Linked DNA regions of Homo sapiens: regions 2 and 3 are each linked to region 1. The links come from fine-mapping of genetic effects on gene expression. A gene starts in region 1. Each other region holds a variant in brackets. All regions are shown on one strand. Distances are between the middles of the regions.

Region 1 (10,409 bases):
TGGCACCTGAGTAAGTAACAGGGGTTTGGAGAATGAGAAATTCATTTGAAAATGTAGGGTCGGGTATGATGGCTCATGCCTGTAATCCTAGCACTTTGGGAGGCTGGGGCCAGAGGATCACCTGAACCCAGGAGTTCGAGACCAGCTGTGCAATATAGTCAGACCCTGTCTCTAAAAATAAATAAATAAATAAAATAAAATAAAATAAAATTAGCCAGGTGTGGCAGCATGTGCTTAGGAGGCTGAGGCAGGAGGATCACTTCAGCCTGGGAGATCAAGGCTGCAGTGATGCAGAGAGCTGTGACCACGCCACTGCACTCCAACCTGGGCAACAGAGTGAGACCCTGTTCAAAAAAAAGAAAAGAAGGAAAGAAAAGCAAGCAAGCAAGCAAGCAAGCAAGCAAGCAAGCAAGCAAGAGGCCGGGCGCAGTGGCTCATGCCTGTAATCCCAGCACTTTGGGAGGCTGAGGCGGGTGGATCATCTGAGGTCAAGAGTTTGAGACCAGACTGGCCAACATGGTGAAACACTGTCTGTACTAAAAAAAATACAAAAATTAGCTGGTCGTGGTGGCGGGTGCCTGTAATCCCAGCTACTCAGAAGGCTGAGGCAGGAGAATTGGTTGAACCCAGGAGGCAGAAGTTGCAGTGAGCCATCACACTATTGTACTCCAGCCTGGGAGACAAGAGCGAAACTCCATCTCAAAAAAAAAAAAAAAAAAAAAAAAAAAAAAAAAACTAAGGAAAGAAAGGAAGGAGGGAGGGAGAGAGACAGAGAGGGAGGAAGGAAAGGAAGGAAGGAAGGAAGGGAGGGAGGGAGGGAGGGAAAGAGAGAGAAAGAAAGAGAAAGAGAGAAAGAAAGAAAGAGAGAGAGAAAAGAAAAGAAAAGAAAGAGAAAGGAAGAAAGAAGGAGAAAAATGTATCTAAATTCTTTGTTCCAGATTCCAGGAGTTCAGATATCAGGGGAGACCTGTATTTACACAAACCTAGTGAGCAGATTTAAGAGCAATTTTACAGAAGGGATAGCAGAGGTGCTACAAGGATTTGGCAAAAGCCGTAAAGACACTAAAAGAACGGCTAACTGATCCACACATGGGATGAACCAAACACACTTAGGCCAGGTCCTGGCACAGTGAGAACTACAATAAAGTGTCTTCTTCATTCCTGAGTCTACCTCCAGGGCCCTGGCATGCCTCAGTTTACCGACTTTGTCCGTTCACCCATTTCAGCTCCATCCTTGAATCCCCTAGTTCCCCTGCAGCTACTTCCAACACCTGCAGCTACTTCCCAGAAAGTTTGCTCTTCTGAGCAAAACTTCAAGGACGGCTGGGCACAATCCAAGCACTTTGGGAGGTCAAGGCAGAAGGACTGCTTGAGCCCAGGAGTTTGAGAACAGCCTGGGCAATAGAGCGAGACCCCATCCCTACAAAAAAAATTGTTTTAATTAGCCAGGTGTGGTGGTGCACGCCTGTGGTTCCAGCTACTCAGGAGGCTGTAGCAGGAGGATCACTTGAGCTCAGGAGTTCAAGGCTGCAATAAGCCATGATCACACCACTGCAGTTCAGGCTAGGCAACAGAGCAAGACCATGTCACTAAAAATAAGAAATAAGGCCGGGCATGGTGGCTCATGACTGTAATCCCAGCACTTTGGGAGGCCAAGGCGGGCGGATCATGAGGTCAGGAGTTCGAGACCAGCCTGGCCAACATAGTGAAACCTTATCTCTACTAAAAATACAAAAATTAGCCGGGCATGGTGGTACGCGCCTGTAGTCCCAGCTACTCAGGAGGCTGAGGCAGGAGAATCACTTGAACCTGGGAGACGGAGGTTGTGATGAGCAGAGATTGTGCCACTGCACTCCAGCCTGGGCAACAGAATGAGACTCTGCCTCAAAAAAAAAAAAAAATAATAATAATAAAATAAAAGCTCTTCACGGAATAGTCTGGAGCTTGTACTGTCCAATGTGATAGCTGCATGGGTTCTTTGTAGCCATGGAGCTCTTTCTGTTCTAATAAGTTAAAATTAAATCAAATAAAAAATTCAGGTCAAGTGCAGTGGTTCATGCCTGTAATCCCAGAACTTAGGGAGGCCAAGGTGGGCGGATCACCTGAGGTCAGGACTTTGAGACCAGCCTGGCCAACATGGTGAAACCCTGTTTCTACTAAAAATACAAAAATCAGCTTGGCATGGTGGCGGGTGCCTGTAGTCCCAGCTACTCGGGAGGCTGAGGCAGGAGAATGGCATGAACCCGGGAGGCGGAGGTTGCAGTGAGCCAAGATTGCACCACTGCACTCCAGCCTGGGCGACAGAGCGAGACTCCACCTCAAAAAAAAATTCAGTTTCTCAGGTACAATGGCCATATTCCAAGTGCCCAGTAGCCCCCTGTGGCCAGGACTGCCATATTGGATGTAGACATAGAACGTTTCCAAAATCGTGGAAAATTCTGACATTCAGTGCTAGGAGCCATTCCTTCTGCACAGCTTGCCTCCTACACTCTTTCCTCGGTGGAGCCACAGAAACTGAAATAAATTGTTTTTTTGTTTGTTTGTTTGTTTTGTTTTGTTTTGAGATGGAGTCTCGCTCTGTCTCCCAGGCTAGAATGCAGTGGTACGATCTCAGCTCACTGCAACCTCTGCCACCTGGGCTCAAGCGACTCTCGTGCCTCAGCATCCTGAGTAGCTGGGATTACAGGCATGTGCCACAGTACCTGGCTAGTTTTTGTATTTTTAGTAGAGATGGGGTTTTACCACATTGGCCAGGCTGGTCTCAAACTCCTGACCTCAAGTGATCAGCCCACCTCGGCCTCTCAAACTGCTGGGATTACAGCTGTGAGTCACTGTGCCTGGCCTGAAATTGTTCTTGATAAAAATCATCAATTTCCTGCCTGGCTCCATATACAACGGCCCTTATTCAGGTTTCATCTGACTGTATCACAAGTGGCCCTGGCTACAGCTGAAAGGCTCTCATTCTGGAAACCCTCTCCTTGGCAGGATACCCCTGCCCCTCTGGCCTTCCTCCCCGCCCCGGCTGCTTCATGCCTGACTTGTTTGTGGCTTTCTCTTGCTTTTCACCTCCCTTGAGTGTAGGTGTTCCCAGTGCAAGCCTTCCCTACATGATTCTCAAACCCAATGTGTGCAGAGGCCAGTCAAGTAACTCAACAGAAAGAAGTAGCCAGGGCCAGGAGCAGTGGCTCACACCTGTAATCCCAGCACGTTGGGAGGCCCAGGTGGGCAGATCACTTGAGGTCAGGAGTTCGAGATCAGCCTGGCCAACATGGTGAAACCTTGTCTCTACTAAAAGTACAAAAATTAGCCAGGCGTGATGGTGGGTGCCTGTAATCCCAGCTACTCGGGGGGCTGAGGCAGGAGAATCGCTTGAACCCAGGAGGCAGAGGTTGAAGTGAGCCGAGATCGCACTACTGCACTCCAGCCTGGGTGATAGAGCGAGACTCCGTCTCAAAAAAAAAAAAGAGGTAGCCGGGTATGGTGGCTCTCGCCTGTAATTCCAGCACTTTGGCAGGCAGAGTGAGGTGGGAGGCTCACTTGAGTCCAGGAGTTGGATACCAGCCTGGTCTGGTATCAAAGGGAGACCCGGTTTCTACAAAAAATTTTAAAATTAGCCAGGCATGGTGGTGCATGCCTGTGGTCCCAGCTACTCCGGAGGCTCATGTGGGAGGATCGCTTGAGCCCAGCAGGTCAAGGCTGCAGTGAACCATGATCGTGCCACTCCAGCCTGGACAACAGAGCAAGACCCTGTCTCAAAAAAAAAAAAAAAAAAAAAAGAGAGAGAGACAGAAGACAGATATTTTTAAATGCTCTTCTAAACACACACACACACAAACACACGCACACAATTGGCTATAGAATTGCCAGTTTGCAACTCCCCTGACTTTACACGTTGTTTTCCCTGTGACGTCTTACCTACTTCCAGTTTCAATTACCAGCTACAACTCGGACCTCTCAGATTCTGGACATTAGTCCAGACCTTTCCCAATCTCAGTCCCCACATGCCCCTCGGTCCCCCTAGGCCGCTCATATGCACAGATTCCCACATTGCACTCAGCGACATTTCCCAAACCTGCTTGCCCTCCTGAGCTCTCCATCTCAGGGACAGCCCCACTGTGTCCCAGTCAGCAGAGCATACGTCCCGGAGCCATCCACCGATGGCGGCACCCCCTCTCTCCCTCATCACCCTCATCAAGCCCCAAGCTCTGCCTTCCTGCCCCCTGAGTCTTTGCCCCATGCCCTCCTCTCTGTGTCCCGAAAGCCCTGACCTGGCTCAGGCCACTACCCCTCCCGCTCAGACGCTCTCTACAGCCTCCTCCCGAGCTCCTGTTCATCCTCTCCCAGCCCCAGAAAGTTTTTCCACACCCAGAGCCAACCCCACTGCTGCGGTGATGCCCCAGCTCCCAAGGACAAGATCCCAGCCCCTTAGGGTGGCCTCTGACACCCTGCAAGCTCTGGCCCTGCCCTCCTCTGCAGCCTCTTCTCTCATGACAGTGCTCCCTGCACCCTGAACTTTGATTCATATTCAAGCCAAACCATATGGTCCTTAGCAAGGACTTTGCACATGCTGTTCAAATCACTTTTTTCTTTCTTTCTTTCTTTTTTTTTTTTTTTTTGAGATGGAGTCTTGCTCTGTCACCCAGGCTGGAGTGCAGTGACGTGATCTCTGCTCATAGTAGCCTCCGTCTCCCAGGTTTAAGTGATTCTCCTGCCTCCTGAGTAGCTGGGATTACAGGCATGCGCCAATACGCCCAGTTAATTTTTGTATTTTTAGTAGAGATAGGGTTGCACCATGTTAGCCAAGCTGGTCTCGAACTCCTGACTTAGGTGATCCACCCGCCTCGGCCTCCCAGATTGTTGGGATGACAGGCGTGAGCCACAATGCCCGGCCCCAAATCGCTTTCCATGGGCCTCTCTCCAGCTCACTTTCAAATGTCACCTCACTAGCCACTCTTCCTCCCTCCAGAAACCATTAGTGACATTTTGTGTCCCCTCCCAGTCTTAAGCAAACACCTCCTCCCAGCTCTCACAGAGCCCAGTGGCTCGTCTTTGGGAGCTGCAACCCCTTGCCTTACTATAATTATCTTCTGCGTTTCTTCCTCCTCAGGCCAGACCAGAGTTTCCTAAATTGTCTTGACCACACTGACCTATCAGTAAAAAGGTTTTGAGCACTCACGTCCAACAAGCGCATATCTGTTTATTTATCCATCATTTACAAGCCATACTGCACTAATATATAGTCATAACAAAATACACACTGAAGTAGGAATGTGGATACTTCCCGCACCCCAAAAACTGTCTTGAAAAACAACTAGAGGGCTGGGCGCGGTGGCTCACACCTGTAATCCCAGTACTTTGGAAAGCCAAGGCAGGTGCATTGCCTGAGATCAAGAGTTCAAGACCAACCTGGGCAACAGGGTGAAATCCCGTCTCTACTAAAATACAAAAAATTAGCTGGGCATGGTGGTAGGCACCTGTAATCCCAGCTACTAGGGAGGCTGAGGCATGAGAACTGCTTGAACCCAGGAGGTGGATGTTGCAGTGAGCTGATATCGCAACACTGCACTCCAGCCTGGGCGACAGAGCCAGACTCTGTCTCAAAAAAACAAAAAACAAAAAACTAGAAAGCCTGGGCCAGGTGCGGTGGCTCACACCTGTAATCCTAGCGCTTTGGGAGGCCGAGGCCGGCGGATCATGAGGTCAGGAGATCGAGACCATCTGGCTAACACGGTGCAACCCCGTCTCTACTAAAAAAAAAATACAAAAAATTGGCCCAGCGCGATGGCTCACGCCTGTAATCCCAGTACTTTGAGGGGCTGAGGCGGGCGGATCACAAGGTCAGGAGATCGAGATCATCCTGGCCAACACGGTGAAACCCCGTCTCTACTAAAATACAAAAAATTAGCCGGGCGTGGTGGCGGGCGCCTGTAGTCCCAGCTACTCGGGAGGCTGAGGCAGGAAAACGGCGTGAACCCGGGAGGCGGAGCTTGCAGTGAGCCGAGATCGCGCCACTGCACTCCAGCCTGGGGGACAGAGCGAGACACCGTCTCAAAAAAAAAAAAAAAAAAAAAAAAACTAGAAAGCCTGGATCCGCTTGAGAGGCCGTCACTGAAGGGCGGGAGCTCCTCGCGGACGCACACACCCTATCTAGCTCAATTGGTGTCCCCGGCCACCAAGACAGGGCCCGCCCGCGGTAATAATTGCCACCTCCCAGTGGGAGCTGCAGATATTTCCCAGCGTCCTGTGCTGGGCGCTGTGCCAGGAATATCACAAGCATTAACTTGTTTAATTCTCATAATAACCCCAGGAGATCAAGCCTCTTTTGATGCCCAGATGAGAAACGGGACCCAGAGAGGTGAAATGATTTGCCCGAAGCCACACAGCACGTGTCCCAGGGGAAATTGGAACCCTGGCAGGGCCGTTGAATTAGGCTAAAGGGACCTTGGGAGCGCTGAGTGAGGGTTTCTTGCATGGATGGATGAATGAATGAATGAATGAATGAATGAATGAATGAAACAGAAATACCCAAAAGGGAAAGACAGAGACACAGAAAGTGACACGAAGAGACAGAAGCACATAGAAGAGACATCGGGGAGGAAAGAAGCAGAACCGAGCCCTGGAGCGTCTACACTGACCCTGAGCGGGAGAATGGCGAATGGGGAATGAGGGGTGTCTACACAGACCCAAACGCTCCTAGAGGGAGAGCGTCGGCAAGGAACGCCCTTGGGAAGGTCCCCGAGTCCAGGAATGGGGAAGGAGCAGGGCTGGGGCGTGACCATCCGCGGGCGGGGTCAGCGGGCCGCGGACCCTCTGGGGTCAGTCCAGGGGCGAACTCCTCACCCCGGATCTGTGGAGTCAACTATGAACGTCGTGCAGGTCTTCTTCTTGAAGATCTTGGGGATCCAGCTCTGGGGACAGGAACAAATGTAGGGGTGGAAGTGGGGTGAGAGGGCACCCAGTTCTGTCCTATGGGACACAGAGCCACCCACCCCGTGCGCTCCCCACGGACACAGGAGTCCGGGCCCCCAGCGCCCTCCCGCTCCAGACTCAGGAGTCTCGACCCCCATGCCCTGGACCCTGGAACCTGGACCCTCCCATCCCCCTCCTCCGTCTGACCCAGGAATCTGGGTGTCCAGCGCCCTCCTCTCTGGGAGCCTGGAGGCGAGGTCCCCAGCTCCGCGCTCCCGCAGACCCTGGTCCGGCGCTCACCTGCTCCTTCTCCGGCACCACCATGCTGCCGCGGCCGCCGCAACCTCCTGCAGCCCAGGGCCCCGGCGCTCCCTCCGCCGGCTCTGCTTCCAGACCCGCCCAGAGCAAACCGGATCCTCCACTTTCCAGCCTAGCCTGGGGCGGGGCGAGGTCTGGGGGGCGGGGAGTCTTGGAGACGCCAAAGCGGGAGGCGGGGAGAGGGCGGGTCCCAGGCCGCGATAAGGGGACAGAGGGACAGCGACCTGGGGGGTGCAGAGGTCCGGGCCGGGGGGAGAGAGACACACAGGGGAGACTCCAAGGGCAAGCGCGAGATGGGAACAGAAGGAGTTGGGGGCCAGTGGCGGAGAGGGAACAGACTCAGAAAGGAGGATGCCAGACAGGGAGGGGACAATTTAACCCAAAGAGGGGGAGACAAAGACTTAGGGGACAGAGAATCAGAAGGTGGGGCAGCAGGGACCCAGGGATAGACAGAGAGAGAGGGGGACAGAGACCCACAGAGAGAGGGGGACAGAGACCCAGGGAGAGGGGACAGAGACCCAGAGAGAGTGGGACAGAGACCCAGAGAGAGTGGGACAGAGACCCACAGAGAGAGGGGGACAGAGACCCAGGGAGAGGAGGACAGAGACCCAGAGAGGGGGGGACAGAGACCCAGAGAGGGGGGGACAGAGACCCAGGGAGGGGGGGACAGAGACCCAGGGAGAGGGGACAGAGACCCACGGAGAGGGGGACAGAGACCCAGGGAGAGGGGACAGAGACCCAGAGAGAGGGGGACAGAGACCCAGAGAGAGGGGGACAGAGACCCAGAGAGACGGGGACAGAGACCCAGAGAGAGGGGGACAGAGACCCAGAGAGAGGGGAACAGAGACCCAGAGAGAGAGGAGGACAGAGACCCAGAGAGAGGGGGACAGAGACCCAGAGAGACGGGGACAGAGACCCAGAGAGAGGGGGACAGAGACCCAGAGAGAGGGGAACAGAGACCCAGAGAGAGAGGAGGACAGAGACCCAGAGAGAGGGGGACAGAGACCCAGAGAGGGGGGGACAGAGACCCAGGGATGGGGGGACAGAGACCCAGGGAGAGGGGACAGAGACCCACGGAGAGGGGTACAGAGACCCAGGGAGAGGGGACAGAGACCCAGAGAGAGGGGGACAGAGACTCTGAGACAGAGGGGGACAGAGACCCTGAGAGAGGGGGACAGAGACCCAGAGAGAGGGGAACAGAGACCCAGAGAGAGAGGGGGACAGAGACCCACAGAGAGAGGGGAACAGAGACCCAGAGAGAGGGGGACAGAGATCCACAGAGAGAGGGGGACAGAGACCCACAGAGAGAGGGGAACAGAGACCCAGAGAGAGGGGGACAGAGATCCACAGAGAGAGGGGGACAGAGACCCAGGGAGAGGGGGACAGAGACCCAGAGAGAGGGGGACAGAGACCCAGGGAGAGGTGGACAGAGACTCTGAGACAGAGGGGGACAGAGACTCTGAGAGAGAGTGGGGACAGAGACCCAGAGAGGTGGATGCCAGAGATGGGGAGGAGACACCTTGACTGAGGCAAGGGGCAGAGGGGGATGCAAAAACCAAAGAATTGGGGGAAGGGCAGGAACTCAGAAAGGAGGGGCCAGAGATTTAGGGGAGAGAGAGGGACACAGACTTGGGGGAGGACTGACACTAAGATAAGAGTGGGACAGAAGCCCAGAGTGAGAGGGAGAGGCAATCCCATGGAGGAGGGACAGGGACCCTGAGAGAGCAGATGACAGAATTGAAGAGAGAGGAGGACCCGTGAACAGGAAAGGAGACCCTAGTGGGGGCAGTCATGAAGGGTGAGGAGTAGGAAATACTGACACACAGAGACGGGCAAGGCCACTTGTCTCCTGCCAGCCCTCTGTGATGGGGACAGCTGTGGCCTCCGTAACCTGAGTCCCCCTACCCCTCCCAGCTGTATTTATAGCCCTGGCCTAGCCCAGTCCCTGCCCCCAGATCTGAGTTCCAGGGACAGGAGGTCATGGGCACGTGTGTTGGGGGCCATGTTCCTTTCCCCCCATTCTAGGGCCTCAATACTGACATCACTCTCTCACCAGCACGTATCATTCCAGCTGGAAACACCCCGCAATCGAACCCCCAGTCCTTCCGTCCCAGGAGTCTCTCCCCTCTGATAAGTCTCTTCTGCCTCCCCCAGGTGCCCCAGGCTCCCCCAAAAACCTGCTAAAAGTCTAGCCTTTGTCTTTGCAGCTGCCAAACGTGAGCTTGTTGGTAGTTCAAAGTCAAGTCCCTTGGCCACCGTCTCCTGGCCAGGGAGAGACCCCTCACTGGTCCCCTCCCCAGCTGGGAGGAGGAGGAGCAGGAGGCAGGCAGGCGGGGACTGACCCAGAATAACTCAGGGCTGAGAGTAAATTTAGCTGGAGAGAGGGGAGGGGAAGGACCCTATTGGCTGGGGAATGGGGAGGGAGGGCCCCAGAGGGGGGTCAGGGGGCTCCGGAGACAGCCTCAGAGGGGTGTCCAGAGCCAGGCAGCAAGGACCAGAGGAAGGTGGACAGAGACCGAAAGGACAAAGGAGAGACACAGAGAAAAAAAGAGACCAACCCCAAAGGGACAAAGACCCCAACGTTTGTCCACATTGCCGCAGAGGCAGCTGGAGCCAGTGCTGCCTGTCCGTCCCCATGGGCCACCATAGGCCATGGCTGCACGCTTCTGTCCTCTGGGCTGGGGTGGCCAGCCTGCTCCTCCCCCCGGCCATGACCCAGCAGCTCAGAGGGGATGGGCTAGGCTTCAGAAACCGGAACAACAGCACTGGAGTCGCCGGGCTCTCCGAGGAGGCATCAGCAGAGCTTCGCCACCACCTCCACAGCCCTAGAGACCATCCAGATGAGAACAAGGATGTTTCCACAGAGAATGGGCATCATTTCTGGAGCCACCCAGACCGTGAAAAGGAGGATGAAGATGTCTCCAAGGAATATGGGCACCTACTCCCAGGCCACAGGTCCCAAGACCACAAAGTCGGAGATGAGGGTGTCTCAGGTGAGGAGGTCTTTGCAGAGCATGGTGGGCAGGCCCGTGGGCACAGAGGCCACGGGAGTGAAGACACGGAAGACTCAGCTGAGCACAGGCACCACCTCCCCAGCCACAGGAGCCACAGCCATCAAGACGAGGATGAGGATGAAGTTGTGTCCAGTGAGCATCACCATCATATCCTCAGGCATGGACACC
Region 2 (5,196 bases), 39 kb before region 1:
GCCGGGCGCGGTGGCTCACGCCTGTAATCCCAGCACTTTTGGGAGGCTGAGATGGCCGGATCACCTGAGGTGGGGAGTTTGAGACTAGCCTGACCAATGTGATGAAACCCCATCTCTACTAAAAACACAAAACTGTTAGCCAGGCGTGGTGGCACGCGCCTGTAGTCCCAGCTACTCGGGAGGCTGAGATAGGAGAATCGCTTCGATCTGGGAGGTGGAGGTTGCAGTGAGCTGAGATCGTGCCATTGCACTCCAGCCTGGGCAACAAGAGCAAAACTCCATGTAAAAAGTAAAGTACAGGTTCCTCTTCAAAGACTTTCCTCCCCATCTAATTAACAATAAATAGTAACTTCTCTTAGAAACAAAATTTATTCAAACACCTGTGCTAACATTCTTAAATATCTACTAGCCATAAAAAATAAATCAATGTACTTTATGTTCTTAGCTCTCACAATTTAGCCTAAATATTTGCCCTGACATACTTATACTGGTTCAAGCAAGCATTAGATCATAGCCTGTTCCTCTTCCTTATTTAAAAGTGTTTTTACCTTTCTCAACATTCCACAAGTTACTTCCTCCTTCCTTTGTTCTCCTCTGCCTTCGCTTCTTTTAAAAACTTCTAAGTTACTAGCCAATCAAGACAAATACAAAATGTAAAGTCCGGTTCCAGCCAATAAAAACCAGACACAGCAGTAAAATAGACGCGTCAGGTTATAAATGACCCTATCTCCTTTGTTCCGTGTACTCTCATGACAAAACTGCTGGCGAGTGTACCCTTTCTACAAAAAATAAAAATGGCTTTACTAAAAAAATTAAATTTATGTTCAAGTACTATTTCTTTACGACACCACAAAATAAACATTTCTAACATCCATCTCAAAAAAAAAGAAAAAAAAAAAGAAAAAAGAAAGACAGACAGAAAGACAGAGGGGGTGGGGTAGGCAGAGACCCAGAGAGATGATGATGGGGAATATAGGGTATCACTCAGAGATCCAGAGAAAGAGGGAGACAGAGACTCAGAGAGACAGATATTTTCTTAGAGCCAGGAGGACAGAGACCCAGGGAGCGGGGACAGAGACTCAGAGGAAGGCTGTCAGGCCGTCATCCCCCCTACCGTCCATGTCCTCCTGGGGAATCTGCCCGAAGATCTGCAGGTAGGGACGGTAGAAGACGCGGCGCAGGATACTTGGGAAGTCACTGTCCCGTGGCCTCAGGAGCCCCTCCGTGGCCACGCCATAGGCTACCAGCCACACGCCGAGGAAGAAGAGGAAGAAGAACACGTCCTTCATCTGTGGGGAGATGTGGCTGAGTCTGGCCCCGCCCTTTCCTACTCTGGCCCCACCCCTATATCCCAAAAACACGCCCCATTGCTCCCCAAAGTCACGCCCCTTCTCCACGGACCACTCCCTCCCTGGCCCCACCCCTTTCCCTATGTCCCCGCCCACTTTGGCCCCGCCCCTGCCTCACCATCTTGCTCACGATGACGATCTTGGGCCCCAGCTGTTTGTTGACCGTGAAGATGTGAAGCAGCCGCACCGTGAAAACCATGAAGTCGATGCAGAGGACAGTGCGGCCCAGGTGGTACAAACCCGGGGTCAGCCTGGGGTGTGGGGAGATGCCACAAGGGTCAAGTGTCACAAGACGCCAAGGAAAATGGAAGTCTTCCCAATGCCATCCTTCAGAGGAAGCTGCAGCCTCCACCGGGCAGGACCAGGACCCTCCCAGTCACCCGGGGTTTACTCAAATTTATTCAGTACCAAGCTGGTCCATGCAGGGCCCTGGCACCCATTTTTAAAATGGCTGCGCCTATTAAGTAATGACTGAATGAACGATGGCCTTAGCAAAGAGCTGGTCCCTGTAAGAATCAAGCTGGAAAAACTGCCGGAATATCTGTCCAACCTATAAAAGGCAAAACATATAGAGTCCTTACAAACTAATACGCAAAAGGAAGGAAGCCAGATAAAGGATACCACGTACAATTCACAGAGGACGTTCAAACGGCCAGTAAACATCAATAATTCCTATGGGGAAAATAAAAATTCTACCCCTATTTTGCATCCTCATGTACTTAAACTTTGGATGGATTAAAAACCTAGTGTATGGACAGACGCGGTGGCTCACGCCTGTAATCCCAGCACTTTGGGAGGCCGAGGCAGGCTCAAAAAAAAGAAAAGAAAAGAAACATACAAAAGTGAAAGTGAAAAGACAAGCCACAGACTTCGAGAAGATATGAAGATATTAAGACCAACAAAACTACCGAGGATTAGGATCCAGAGTATAAGGAGTATATACATTTATACATATACAAATCAATGAACCCCAATTAAAAAAACGGGAGGGTGGCCGGTCGCAGTGGCTCACGCCTGTAATCCTAGCACTTTGGGAGGCCGAGGCGGGCGGATCACGGGGTCAGGAGATCGAGAACATCTTGGCTAACACGGTGAAACCCCGTCTCTACTACAAAATACAAAAAATTAGCCGGGCGTGGAGGCAGGCACCTGTAGTCCCAGCTACTCAGTAGGCTGAGGCAGGAGAATGGCGTGAACCCGGGAGGCGGAGGTTGCAGTGAGCCGAGATCGCGCCACTGCACTCCAGCCTGGGCTACAGAGCGAGACTCCGTCTCAAAAACAAAAACAAAAACAAAAACCAAAAAAAAAACAAGGGGGCACAAGGACATATGGCCATTAAGCTTAGGAAAAGATGTCCAACCTATCTGGTAGTCAAGAGTGCATAAATTATAACAAGGAGAGGTCATGTTTACCCATTAAATTGGCAAATTTTTTTTCAGTTAAATTGAGAGCTACATTTTAGAGTGAAAGTATCAGGCATTGTCGAGCATGGCCTCAAGGGGGCACTCTCTTACCCTGATGGCAGGTGTGGAAATGAGTGAAGCTACTTAGAAGGAAATCTATCCATGTCAAAAATAAATGTACCCTTTGACCCATAAACTTTACATCTGGGATGTAAACTTTTATTATTTTGGAATAATAAAAAAACAGAAGGCTGAGCATAGTAGCTCACGCCTGTAATCCCAGCACTTTGAGAGGCCAAGGTGGGAGGATTGCTTGAGCCCTGGAGTTTGAGACCAGCCTGGGCAACAGAGTGAGACCCTGTCTCTATTTAAAACAAAAAAAGAAAGAAAGAGAGAACCTAAATGTCCATCTAGAGGGAACTGG[C/T]GAAACAAAGGATGATTCATCCATTCAATTCCGGAGATGATTAGACATTTCTCCCTTTTTTTTTTTTTTTTTTTTTTGACAGAGTTTTGCTCTTTTCACCCAGGCTAGAGTGCAGTGGCATGATCTTGGCTCACTGCAACCTCCGCCTCCCAGGTTCAGGCAATTATCCTGCCTCAGCCTCCCGAGTAGCTGGGATTACAGGCGCCTGCCACCATGCCCGGCTAATTTTTTGTATTTTTAGTAGAGATGGGGTTTCACCATGTTGGGCAGGCTGGTCTCAAACTCCTGATCTCAGGTGATCCACCCGCCTCGGCCTCCCAAAGTGCTGGGATTACAGGCATGAGCCACCACGCCAGGCCCGTTTCTCCCTTTTAAGCTGAGATCTTTCCATTTTTCACCTGGAAAGTGGTAGGCTTGATAAACTGTCCAAAATATCACTGGCAATCCTAGAGCATGGTAGCATATGGCCTTAGCCCTTTCATCTCAAAAGTCACTTTATACAAAATACAACAAATTACAAACAGAAGTATTAGTGTTCTGCAAAACTCTCATATCTTGCTCCCTGCTTGAATAAATTATTTATGTTGAATCACTTTGTAACACTGCTAACATAGCTTAGAGGAAGCCTGCCTCTCAGCGTGTCTACTGGGAAAAGCTTGAGTAGGGATCATCACTGTCATCACTGTCAACCATTCAGGATGTGTCAGGTCCCTTGTAAACAGTCACCAGGTTGTTGGCCAGGCACGGTGACCCACATCTGTAATCTCAGCACTTTCAGAGGCTAAGGCCAGTGGATCACTTGAGGCCAAGAGTTCAAGACCAGCCTGGTCAATATGGCAAAGCCCCATCTCTACAAAAAAAATACAAAAAAAATTTAGCTAGGTGTAGTGGTGCATGCCTGTAATCCCAGCTACTCACGAGGCTGAGGCAAGAGAATCGCTTGAACCCAGGAGGTGGAGGTTGCAGTGAGCCAAGATCGTACCACTGCACTCCAGTCTGGGCGACACAGCGGAACTCTGGCTCAAAAAAAAAAAAGAAAAGAAAGAAAACAAAAACAAACAAACAAACAAAAAACCAGTCACCAGGTTGTATCCACAAACTTTTCTGTTTGCTCTCCTCAAAAGGAGGAGTATCCTAATGCAGGATACTCCATAATGCAGGCAGGGCAAGGGTTAAACCCTTAGCTTGGAGGGATGGAAGGAAGCATAGAAGGAAGGAAGGAAGGAAGGAAGGAAGGAAGGAAGGAAGGAGGGAGGGAGGCAGAGGGGCAGAGGACAGAGGGAGAGAGAGAGAAAGAAAAGAGAAAAAGAAAAAGAAAAGAAAGGAAAAGAAAAGAGAAAGAAAGAAAAGAAAGAGAGAGAAAGAAAGAAAGAAAGAAAGAAAGAAAGAAAGAAAGAAAGAAAGAAAGAAAGAAAAAGAAAGAAAGAGAAAGAAAGAAAGAAAAAAAAAGGAAAGAAAGAAAAAGTCGGGGGCAGGAGGGCAAGGGGCCTGGGACCAACGAGCTATGTGGAGGAAGAGAAGGGAGGAGGTGAGGTTGGCACCCAGGTCGGGGCGCTCCCATAAATATCTGTTAAACTTCAGGCCTAGCAATAAATAGCAGCAGAGGCTGAGTGGCGGACAGTGGGGTTTTCTCCTGAATCCTGCCGTCCCTGAAGCCAGATCTCCAGGTGCCAGCCAATTACCCTGGGGCAATCGTCATGCCCGACTTTCCTAAGAGGGGTTCTCAATCAGCAGGGTTGGCTTGACCTGCTGCCCAGCTGCGGGGAAGCCGGGAGTGGAGACCCCGGGAGTGGGCAGGAAGGATGAGAGGTGGCCAGGGGCCAGGGTTCCAAGGCCCCGGGGCACTCACCGGCAGCCCACGCCCAGGAGGAAGCAGGTGAGAGCCACTAGGTCGCACTGGTTCCAGCTGTCGGCGAGGTAGAGGCGCAGGCGCTGGCTCAGTGAGGCATGGCCAGGCCCGGGGCCCCCGCTGGCGAGGCTGCCCCCGCCTCCGCTCAGGCCCTGGCGCAGTTCCTCGCAC
Region 3 (10,672 bases), 21 kb before region 1:
GCAGGAAGTGAAGACTAAAGCAGAACTGTAAACAGCTTGGCTAAGTATTGAAAGACTGCTTCAATATACAGCCACGGTGGGCGTCGCTCATGCCTCTAATCCCAGCACTTATAGGGAGTTTCTTGTTATATTTGCTTCTGTGGTTCTAGGCATTTAAGGATATCTCTGTCAAGTCACCAGCAGACCACTAAGCTAACAGAAGAGGGGCTTCCATGGCCACACATGCAAAGAATACAGACTTTCCAAAAAAGGTTTAGAGAAGTCACTAAACAGGGTGGGCGCGGTGGCTCACGCCTGTAATCCTAACACTTTGGGAGGCCAAGGTGGGTGGATCACCTGAGGTCAGGAGTTTGAGACCAGCCTGGCTAACATGGTGAAACCCCGTCTCTATGAAAAATACAAAAATTAGCTGGGTGTGGTGGCACACACCTGTAATCCCAGCTACTTGGGAGGCTGAGGCAGGAGAATCACTTAAACCTGGGAGGTGGAGCTTGCAGTGAGCCGAGATTGCACCACTGTACTCTAGCCTGGGCCACAGAGTGAGACTCCATCCCCCCTCCCCCCAAAAAAAAGAAAAAGAAAAAAGAAAAGTCACTAAACAAACAACAATGACCCACAATGAGCAGCAGCCACAACAAACCCTGGAGGGAGGGCATAAGCTGATTTCCAGAGTTGCCACATTATCATATTCAAAATGTTCCACTTTTCAACCAAAAATTATGAGGCATGCAAAGAAACAAGACAATATGGTTCATATACTGGAAAAAAAAGAAATTAATAGAGACCAGGCATGGTGGCTCACACCTGTAATCCCAGCACTTTGGGAGGCCCAGGCAGGAGGATTGCTTGAGCCCAAGAATTCAAGACCAACCTGGGCAACATAGTAAGACCCCATCTCTGCAAATTTTTTAAAATTAGCTTGGCATGTGGCTGGTAGACCCAACTACTCAGGAGGCTGAGGTGGGAGGATTGCTTGAGTCCAAGAAGTCAAGGTTGCAGTGAACTTTGGTCAAACCACTGCAGTCCAGTCTGAGTGACAGAATGAGACTCTGTCTCAACAACAACAACAAGAACAACAAATAAATAAATAAAAGAAAAGAAATGAAATGAATAGAAATGAGTAGGAAAAAAATAAATGAATAGAAACTATCCCTGAGGAAACTCAGACACTGAACTTACTAGCAAAGGCTTTAAATAAATTGTCTTAAATATGCTCGAAGAGCTAAAGGAAATCATGAAAAAAGAACTAAAGGGAGCCAGGAAAAAGATGTCTCACCACCTAGAGAATAAGAATACAGAGATAGAGGCAGGGTTTCCTGAAACTGGGTTAATTCTTTATAGAAATGTGAACACTGAATTTATTTTTTTAAAAATAAAAATTAAAAAAAAAAGAAAAAAACACAGAAAACATCTTATCTGTATATAGGTCTTGAGTGAAGTGGCTGCTTTTTTTTCTGCTTTTTGTAGAAGAGATTGAGAATGGTACTGTAATCAAAAATAAAGTTTTGTAGTGGGACCAGGAAAAAAAAAAGACAGACTACAGAGGCCGGGCGCAGTGGCTCACGCCTGTAATCCCAGCACTTTGGGAGGCCGAGGAGGGCAGATCACGAGGTCAGGAGATCGCAACCATCCTGGCTAACACAGTGAAACCCTGTCTCTAAAAAAATACAAAAAAATTAGCTGGGCGTGGTGGCGGGCACCTGTAGTCCCAGCTACTTGGGAGGCTGAGGCAGGAGAATGGCGTGGAGGCAGGAGAATGGCGTGAACCCAGGAGGCAGAGCTTGCAGTGAGCGGAGATTGAGCCACTGCACTCCAGCCTGGGCGACTGAGCGAGACTCTGTCTCAAAAAAAAAAAAAAAAAAAAAAAAAAGACTACAGAGACAGAAATGAACCAAATAGAAACTCTGAAGCTAAAAAGCACAATAACTGAAATATAAAAACCACTAGAGGGACTCAACAGTAGATTCATAAAAAAGGCAAAATAAAGATCAGTGAATTTGAAGCTAAGTACATTGAGATTATCCAGCCTGAGGAGAAAAAAGAAAAACAAATGAAGGAAAATAAGCAGAGCCTAAGGGACTTGCGAGACACCATACAGAATATTAATACATACATAATGAGAGTCCAAAAGGAAAAGAGAGACAGAAAGGGAAAGAAATAATATTTGAAGATATAATGTCCTAAAAACTTCCAAAATGTGATGAAAGACAAAAGTCTACACATCCAGGAAGCTCAAGGAACTCCAAGTAAAAGAAATTCACAGGCCAAGCACAGTGGCTCACGCCTGTAATCCCAGCACTTCGGGAGGCCAAGGCAGACAGATCACAAGGTCAGGAGATCAAGACCACGGTGAAACCCCATCTCTACTAAAAATACAAAAAATTAGCTGGGCGTGGTGGCGGGCGCCTGTAGTCCCAGCTACTCGGGAGGCTGAGGCAGGAGAATGGCATGAACCCAGAAGGTGGAGCTTGCAGTGAGCCGAGATCATGCCACTGCACTCCAGCCTGGGCAACAGAGCAGGACTCCATCTCAAAAAAAAAAAAAAAAGAAAAAGAAAAAGAAATTCACAGAGATCCACACTGAGATATATTATCAAAGGCCAAAACAAAGAGAGAATCTTGGCCAGGCACGGTGGCACATGCCTGTAATCCCAGCATTTTGGGAAGCCGAGGCGGGTGGATCACTTGAGGTCAGGAGTCCAGCCTGGCCAACATGGTGAAACCCCATCTCTACTAAAACAAAACAAAACAAAACAAAAATTAGCCAGGCGTGGGGGCAGGTGCCTGTAATCCCAGCTACTCCGGAGGCTGAGGCAGGAGAATTACTTGAACCCGGGAGACTGAGGGTGCAGTAAGCCAAGATTGCGCCACTGCACTGCAGCCTGGGCGACAGAGCGAGACTCTGTCTCAAAAAATAAACACATAAAATAATGCATGATGTGAGAGAGAGAAAAGAAAGAGGAAGCAGTTGGAGGCATATATCAGCGACGGAGGATGGGGCGCCTGTCAGGTGACGTCAGGGGTCGGGGAATTGTATGGTAATTGTTTCGGGAACACTGGCATCCAGTGGCCTAAAGGACAGGGATGCAGGAGCGCCAAGTCAGCACTCACCATCTCCCAGAAGTACATGGCCATCTGTGCCCTGTTCAGCAACAGTGCCCAAAGAAGCAGGTCGCTCCAGGGGGCCTGCCCGAGGCCAGCATCCAGCGAGAGCGGCGAGGTGGCCTTGTCCGAGAGCAGATACATCTGCCAGCAAAAGGAGGGGTGGTGAGGACCAGCCCCTCCCCAACACTGGCCACCACCAGCCCTGCCTCTGGTTTGGCCACGCCCCATCCCTGATGTAATCCCGCCCCCAGGTCCTTCCCGCGCGGGGGGGCCCCCCAGCTTTGCCCGGTCCTTACGCTCTCCCCGAAGCCCTGGCCTGGGTGAGGGTCCCAGGCGCCCCCGGAGGGGTACCTCGGCGCGCACATCTTCCCCAGCAGCATCCTCAGCACATGCCCCACGTCAGGGGGCCGGAGCTCCGCAGCTCCCCCTTTTAGGGCTGGGGCTTTGGTGCCTGCGCTGTGGGACGCCTGGTCCAAAAGGTTGCGGATGAGCGAGTTGGAGGGCGCCGCGCTGTAGAGTTGGGCCAGGCGCATCGGGGTCAGGAAGTGGCCCAGGCTGAGGCCGTGGGAAATGAGCAAGCGCACGAACTCAGGCCGGTCATTCAGCAGGGCGTCCATGAGGGAAGCTTCGAGATGGAAGGACTGGCAGGGTGGGATGAATAGGGGAAGAGATTAGCTCAAAGGTTAAGGACAAGAGATGGGCAAGGGTATGAGGGACGGATGGATGGATGGATGGATGGATGGATGGATGGATGGATGGATGGATGGGTGGATGGATGGATGAATGGATAGGTAGATGGATGGATGGACAGATGGATGGATGGGCAGATGGATGGATGGATGGATGGATGGATGGATGGATGGACAGAGGGATGGATGGATGGACAGAGGGATGGATGGATGGACAGAGGGATGGATGGATGAACGGATAGGTAGATGGATGGATGGACAGATGAATGGATGGACAGATGGATGGATGGATAGATGGATGGATGGATGGATGAATGGATAGGTAGATGGATGGATGTATGGATGAATGGATAGGTAGATGGATGGATGGACAGATGAATGGATGGATGGATGAATGGACAGATGGATGGATGGATGGATGGATGGATGGATGGACAGATGGATGGATGGATGGATGGATGGATGGATGGATAAATGGATGGATGGACAAATGGATGGATGGATGGATAAGTAGATGGATGAATGAATGGATGAATGGATAGATGGAGGTACAGGGTGGATGGATGGATAGACAGATGGATGGGTGGGGAGAGAGGAAACAAGATGGGGCAGATGGACAGAGATGGATGGACAATTAAGGGAAGGCTGGACAGGCCATAATGGAAGGCAGGGTTGAGGGGCGTCTAAGAAGGCAGAGAGGCCGGGTGCGGTGGCTCATGCCTGTAACCCCAGCACTTTGGGAGCCTGAGGCGGGCGGATCACAAGGTCAGGAGATCGAGACCATCCTGGCTAACATAGTGAAACCCCGTCTCTACTAAAAATACAAAAAAATTAGCTGGGTGTGGTGGCGGGCGCCTGTAGTCCCAGCTACTCGGGAGGCTGAGGCAGGAGAATGGCGTGAACCCAGGTGGCGGAGCTTGCAGTGAGCTGGGATCACACCTCTGCACTCCAGGCTGGGTGACAGAGTGAGACTCCGTCAAAAAAAAAAAAAAAAAAAAAGAAGGCAGAGAGGGAGGACAGCACAGTCCCTTTGTCAGTATGCCCAACCCCCAGGCCCTGACCCCTCACCCGCCATTGGATGTCCCCCCGAAAGAGTTCACTCTGGGCAATGTCCACGCGGTTCCAAGCCACAGCCAAACGCAGCTCATCCAGGTAGGCTGAGGCCTCCGAGCTCCCACAGGCTGGAAGGATTAGAGGGAG[A/T]GGGGACAAGAAGTCAGGGGAGGAGGGACATCTGCTGAATGTCTATTTTGCCTCTATTTTGCATGTCTGACTTTTAAACTCTGCATAAAGGGGTTGCTACTGGGCAGAGTGTGGGGGTCTTAAAGCAGTCAGGCTATCATAGGCATAAGGTCATTTGGCTCAGGGCCAGAGCACAGACCACTGGTTTACAGCCCCCAAGAAGAAACAAAAGGAATCACTTATTCATTTAATATTTATTGAGGTATGTTATGGACCAAGCAGTGGGAGGGATGGAGAGAGAAATCAGATACAGTTCCTACCCTGAAGAAGCTGGTTCTATTGGGGGAAATATGTCCCCCCAACACATAACTACCCTCAGGGTGCTTGGTGCCCTCAGAGGTAGGCATATAATATGATTAGGATGGATGGATGGACAGATAGAAGGATGGATGGATGGGATGGATAAATGGATGGATGAAAGGATAAAGAGATGGATGAATGAACGGATGGATGGATAGATGGATGTACAGGGTGGATAGATGGATAGATGGACAGACGGATGGATGGGGAGAGAGGAAACAAGATGGGGCAGACGGACAATCAGAGATGGATGGGCGATTAAAGGGAAGGCTGGACAGGCCATAATGGAAGGCAGGGTGGAGGGGTGTCTAAGGAGGCATCTATAGGCATATAATATGATTAGGGCCCAGAGGAGGATATGGTCACAGAGGTATAGAGTGGCCCAAGAGAGCTCCCAGAGAATGGGTGTTGAGGTAGCACTTTGAAAGACCACCAGGACTGGGAGGTATGCCCCTAAGGTGCGAAAAGGGCGTTCAAAGCAGCAGGCACAGCAGAAGCAAAGGCCCGGGTGCAACACACACACACACACACACACACACACACACACACACACACACACACAGCAGATGATGACAAACGTGAGTCACTCTGATTTCTGAAACTTGGGGTATATTGTGAAGGGAAAGAGGTGACAACAGCAGAAAATGAGAACAGGAGAGGGACTCCGAGAGACCCTGGAGGTCACTGAAACAGCAAGAGAGAACCAGAAACCCTTAAAAATTTGATCCAGCTATGTAGTGGATCCAAACATGTGCAGTCAACAGGGGCATGAAAAGTCCTGAAGGGCATTTGTCGTGACATGGAGTTAGGTTTCCTTCTGCCTCCACTTGCTCCATATCTATCTCCAAAACAAATTCATCTCATTTTGGTTGCTCCAAAAACTGGTACCACAGAAAGAGATAATCTCATGTAGTGGAGGTGAGCAATAGGCTCTGGGGCAGGCAGACGTGGGTTCCAGTCCCCGGTCCACCAGTACCAACTGAGTGACTTCAGGCAAGCCATTGAACCTTGGGAGCCTCAGTTTCCTCATCTATTAAATGGGAAATAGTGGCACCCCCTTCATAGCACTGTAATCAATTACAGTAACTGTGGGAAGAAGTTCCACGCTGTGGCGACACTACAGCTTGGCCAGTGTAACCTCCAAGGCTGTGCTTGAGGAAACAGAGGCCCAGAAAGGCAGTAACATGTCTAGGACCTCATGGCTTTCTGTGCTCTTTCAAAACCCAGACGTCCATTCAGAGCGGACTTTTCCACGACTTTCTACGATTCTATGAAGCTCTCCTACTTTCCCCACAGTTTCAAAAGAAGGAAACAAAATTGTTCATAATATCTTGCTTTACAGGCCGGGCGCCGTGGCTCACGCCTGTAATCCCAGCACTTTGGGAGGCCAAGATGGGCGGATCGCCTGAGCTCAGGAGTTCGAGACCAGCCTGGGTAACACGGTGAAACCCCATCTCTACTAAAATACAAAAAATTAGCTGGGCATGGTGGCATGCGTCTGTAGTCCCAGCTACTTGGGAGGCTGAGCAGGAGAATCGCTTGAACCCGGGAGGTGGAGGTTGCAGTGAGCCGAGATCACGTCACTGCATTCCAGCCTGGGTGAGAAAGGGAGACTCCGTCTCAAATAATAATAATAGGCTGGATGCTGTGGCTCATGCCTGTAATCCCAACACCTTGGGAGGCCGAGGTGGGCGAATCACCTGAGGTCAGGAGTTCGAGACCAGCCTGACCAACATGGAGAAACCTCGTCTCTGCTAAAAATACAAAATTAGCTGGGCGTGGTGGCTCATGCCTGTAATCCCAGCTACTTGGGAGGCTGAGGCAGGAAAATCGCTTGAACCCGGGAGGTGGAGGTTGCAGTGAGCCAAGATCACGCCATTGCACTCCAGCCTGGGCAACAGAGCGAAACTCTGTTGCAAAAATAATAATAATAGGCCGGGCACAGTGGCTCACACCTGTAATCCCAGCACTTTGGGAGGCCGAGATGGGTGGATCATGAGGTCAAGAGATCGAGACCACCCTGGTTAACACAGTGAAACCCCATCTCTACTAAATATACAAAAAATTAGCCGGGCATGGTGGCGGGCGCCTGTAGTGCCAGCTACTCAGGAGGCTGAGGCAGGAGGATGGCATGAACCTGGGAGGTGGAGCTTGTAGTGAGCCAAGATCGTGCCACTGCACTCCAGCCTGGACGACAGAGCAAGACTCCATCTCAAAAAAAATAAAAAAATAAAAATAATAATAATAATAATACCTTGCTTTATATTCCGCCTTAATCTGGCACCATTTGTCACCTGGGCACTCGACCCTGGCCCCACCTTGTCCCTTCAGACTCACCGTGTTCCATACTCAACTCAGCATCTAGCCCTCAAACCCATCTTCCCTACGTCCTCATCTCAGGAATGGCCCCTCTGTCCACCCAATCAATAAGGCAGACCCGCAGGTACTGTCCTTGTCCCTTCCTGCTCCTCCCATCTCACAGGCCATCAGCCCCCAAGCTTCATGTCCCACGTCCAGCCTCCTGACTCTCTGCTGAGCCTCCCCGACTGTCCTCCTGGCCCCAGCTATAGCTCAAGCTTCGGCACCCCCAAACACCATCACTGCAGTCTCTTCTCTCCTCTCCACTCTGCCCCCACCCACTCCCAGAGAGTCTGTTTTTGTTTTTTGAGACAGGGTCTTCGTCTGTCACCCAGTCTGGAGTGCAGTGGCGCCATCACAGCTCACTTCAGCTTTGAGACCTCCCAGGCTCAAGCGATCCTCCTGCCTCAGCCTCCCGAGTAGCTGGGACTACAGGCGCACAGTACCATACCCAGCTAATTTTTTATAGACATGGGGTCTCACTATGCTGCCCAGGCTGGTCTCAAACTCCTGGGCTCAAGCGAACCTCCTTCCTTAGTCTTCCAAGGTGCTGTGATAATAGGCATGAGCCTTCACGCTTGGCCAGAGAGTCTTTTTTATCCACATAACGGACCCTGGTCCTCTGCTGCCTCTCAAGGACAGCCTTAGCCCCTCTGCCTGGCATTTGAGGTCCTGGGTGGTTTGGCCCTACCTGCCTCACTGGCCTTGTCTCCAACACTCCCTTCATGCCAATGATACATACCAACCCTGCGAGCCTCTGACCTCTCTCCAAACATGCCCCTTGCAATGGGCTTGAGAATTATACAGACTCACATGAAAAGCCTGACCCCTGCTACTAGCTGGATGACCCTGGGCAAGCCATTTTTCCTCTCTCTGAGCCTCAGTCTCTTCATCTGCAAAATGGGGTGATAATCCTTGCAGGCAGGGAAGGGAGATGAAGGGCAAAAGAGTACACCAACTGCCCAGCACTGGGCCTGCCTATGCTAGACTCTTAGGAAGGATTCATGGGCCAGGGGTGGTGGCTCACACCTGTAATCCCAGCACTTTGGGAGGCCGAGGCAGGCAGATCACGAGGTCAGAAGGTCGAGACCATCCTGGCCAACATGGTGAAACCCCATCTCTACTAAAAATACAAACATTAGCCAGGCATAGTGGCAGGTGCCTGTAGTCCCAGCTTCTCGGGAGGCTGAGGCAGGACAATCGCTTGAACCCGGGGGTTGCAGTGAGCTGAGATCACACCACTGCACTCCAGCCTGGGCGACAGAGCGAGACACTGTCTCAAAAAAAAAAAAAAAAAAAAAAGACGCATTCATGACCTTGCCCTTCTTTCTTGCTGAAATTCCATCCATTCAACTCTGCTATCCCCAAGCCTATCAGCCATCTCCAGTTCCCCCAGTGGACTGTGATCACTTCCACTCCTGCTGGGCTTACAACACCACCCCCTCAAACCACATCTTGCAGAGCTGCCGTATTTTCTCCCAGGAGGCTGCTGAGTTAACTTCCGCAGAGTGAATCAGATTTGCCCACTGAGAGTTACCTTATATTGAAGGATGTACCCCCAGAGGAAATGGAATCATATTAAGAGGAGATCCCTCTTATTGGGCCCCCACCGGGACCGGGCACAACTCATACCTTGCCATGGAGGCTTATAACACTCCTGTAAGATATTATCTCCACTTTCCACAGAGAGAAACTGGGGCTCAGAGAGGGGAAGCTGCTTCCTCAAGACCACACAGCAAGAAAGGGCCAAGCTGGTTTGTTTCTTTTTGATTGTTTGTTTTTGAGACAGAGTCTCGCTCTGTCGCCCAGGCTGGAGTGCAGTGGCACGATCTTGGCTCACGGCAACCTCCACCTCCTGGGTTCAAGCGATTCTCCTGCCTCAGCCTCCCAACTAGTTGGGATTACAGGCACCCGCCACCACGCCAGCTAATTTTTGTATTTTCAGTAGAGACAGGGTTTTGCCATGGTGGCCAGGCTGATCTCGAACTCCTGACCTCAAGTGATCCTACCTCAGCCTCCCAAAATGTTGGGATTATAGGCGTGAGCCACTGTACCCGGCCCAAGCTGGTATTTAAATTCAGTTTTGTCTGATTCCAAAGCAAAAATAACTTGCTCTTTCTACCCTACCACAGCCTGTACTATACCTAGCACTTTGGGAGGTCAAGGCAGGAGGATCTCTTCAGCCCAAGAGTTCAAGACCAGCCCAGGCAACATAGGGAGACCCTATCCCTATAAAAAAATTAAAAATAAATTAGCCTGGTGTGGTGGCGCACAGCTACTCAGAGGCTGATGCGAGAGAATCACTTGAGCCCAGGATCTCAAGGCTGCAGTGAGCTATGATTGTCCCACTGCACTCCAGCCTGGACAACAGAGTGAGACTGTCTCAAAAAATACCTAAAAATGAATTAAGGCCGGGCGCGGTGGCTCACACCTGTAATCCAAGTACTTTGGGAGGCCGAGGCGGGTGGATCACCTGAGGTCAGGAGTTCAAAACCAGCCTGGCCAACATGGCGAAACCCTGTCTGTACTAAAAATACAAAAATTAGCCGGGTGCGGTTGTGGGCACCTGTAATCCCAGCTACTCAGGAGGCTGAGGCAGGAGAATCGCTTAAACCTGGGAGGAGGAGGTTGCAGTGAGCTGAGATGGCGCCATTGCACTCCAGCCTGGGCGACAGACAAAGACTCTTTAAAAAAAAAAAAAAAAGAGGCCGGGCGCCGTGGCTCACGCCTGTAATCCCAGCACTTTGGGAGGCCGAGGCGGGTGGATCACAAGGTCAGGAGATCGAGACCATCCTGGCTAACACGGTGAAACTCCGTCTCTACTAAAAATAGAGAGCCCAACTACTCGGGAGGCTGAGGGAGGAGAATGGCGTGAACCCAGGAGGCAGAGCTTTCAGCGAGCCGAGATCGCGCCACTGCACTCCAGCCTGGGCGACAGAGCGAGACTCTGTCTCAAAAAAAAAAAAAAGAAAAAGAAAGAAA

What was found. PIP is the estimated chance that this variant, and not a neighbour inherited with it, causes the effect.
Region 2: its variant is fine-mapped to the expression of TRPM4 in blood mononuclear cells (TOPMed, PIP above 0.99). The same link has a PIP of 0.9 or more in monocytes and whole blood.
Region 3: its variant is fine-mapped to the expression of TRPM4 in fibroblasts (GTEx, PIP above 0.99). The same link has a PIP of 0.9 or more in esophagus mucosa, lung, nasal epithelium, sun-exposed skin and unexposed skin.

What each region holds. Positions count from the first base shown.
Region 1 is chr19:49,154,691-49,165,099 of GRCh38, reverse strand. TRPM4 (transient receptor potential cation channel subfamily M member 4) reads right to left here and starts at 7,308. Exons shown (of 25, transcript NM_017636.4): 1 at 7,210-7,308; 2 at 6,841-6,908. The coding sequence starts at 7,233. It overlaps HRC (histidine rich calcium binding protein), which reads left to right and starts at 9,704. Exons shown (of 6, transcript NM_002152.3): 1 at 9,704-10,409. The coding sequence starts at 9,863. RefSeq lists a silencer at 6,083-6,269 and an enhancer at 6,953-7,574.
Region 2 is chr19:49,196,704-49,201,899 of GRCh38, reverse strand. TRPM4 (transient receptor potential cation channel subfamily M member 4) reads right to left here. Exons shown (of 25, transcript NM_017636.4): 17 at 5,026-5,196; 18 at 1,468-1,600; 19 at 1,115-1,289. Among named protein-coding and RNA genes, the nearest start is that of TRPM4, 42 kb to the right of the region's middle. RefSeq lists a silencer at 4,815-5,141. The variant C/T (reference allele first, on the strand shown) is at 3,177.
Region 3 is chr19:49,175,651-49,186,322 of GRCh38, reverse strand. TRPM4 (transient receptor potential cation channel subfamily M member 4) reads right to left here. Exons shown (of 25, transcript NM_017636.4): 10 at 4,862-4,974; 11 at 3,401-3,745; 12 at 3,111-3,245. Among named protein-coding and RNA genes, the nearest start is that of TRPM4, 23 kb to the right of the region's middle. The variant A/T (reference allele first, on the strand shown) is at 4,994.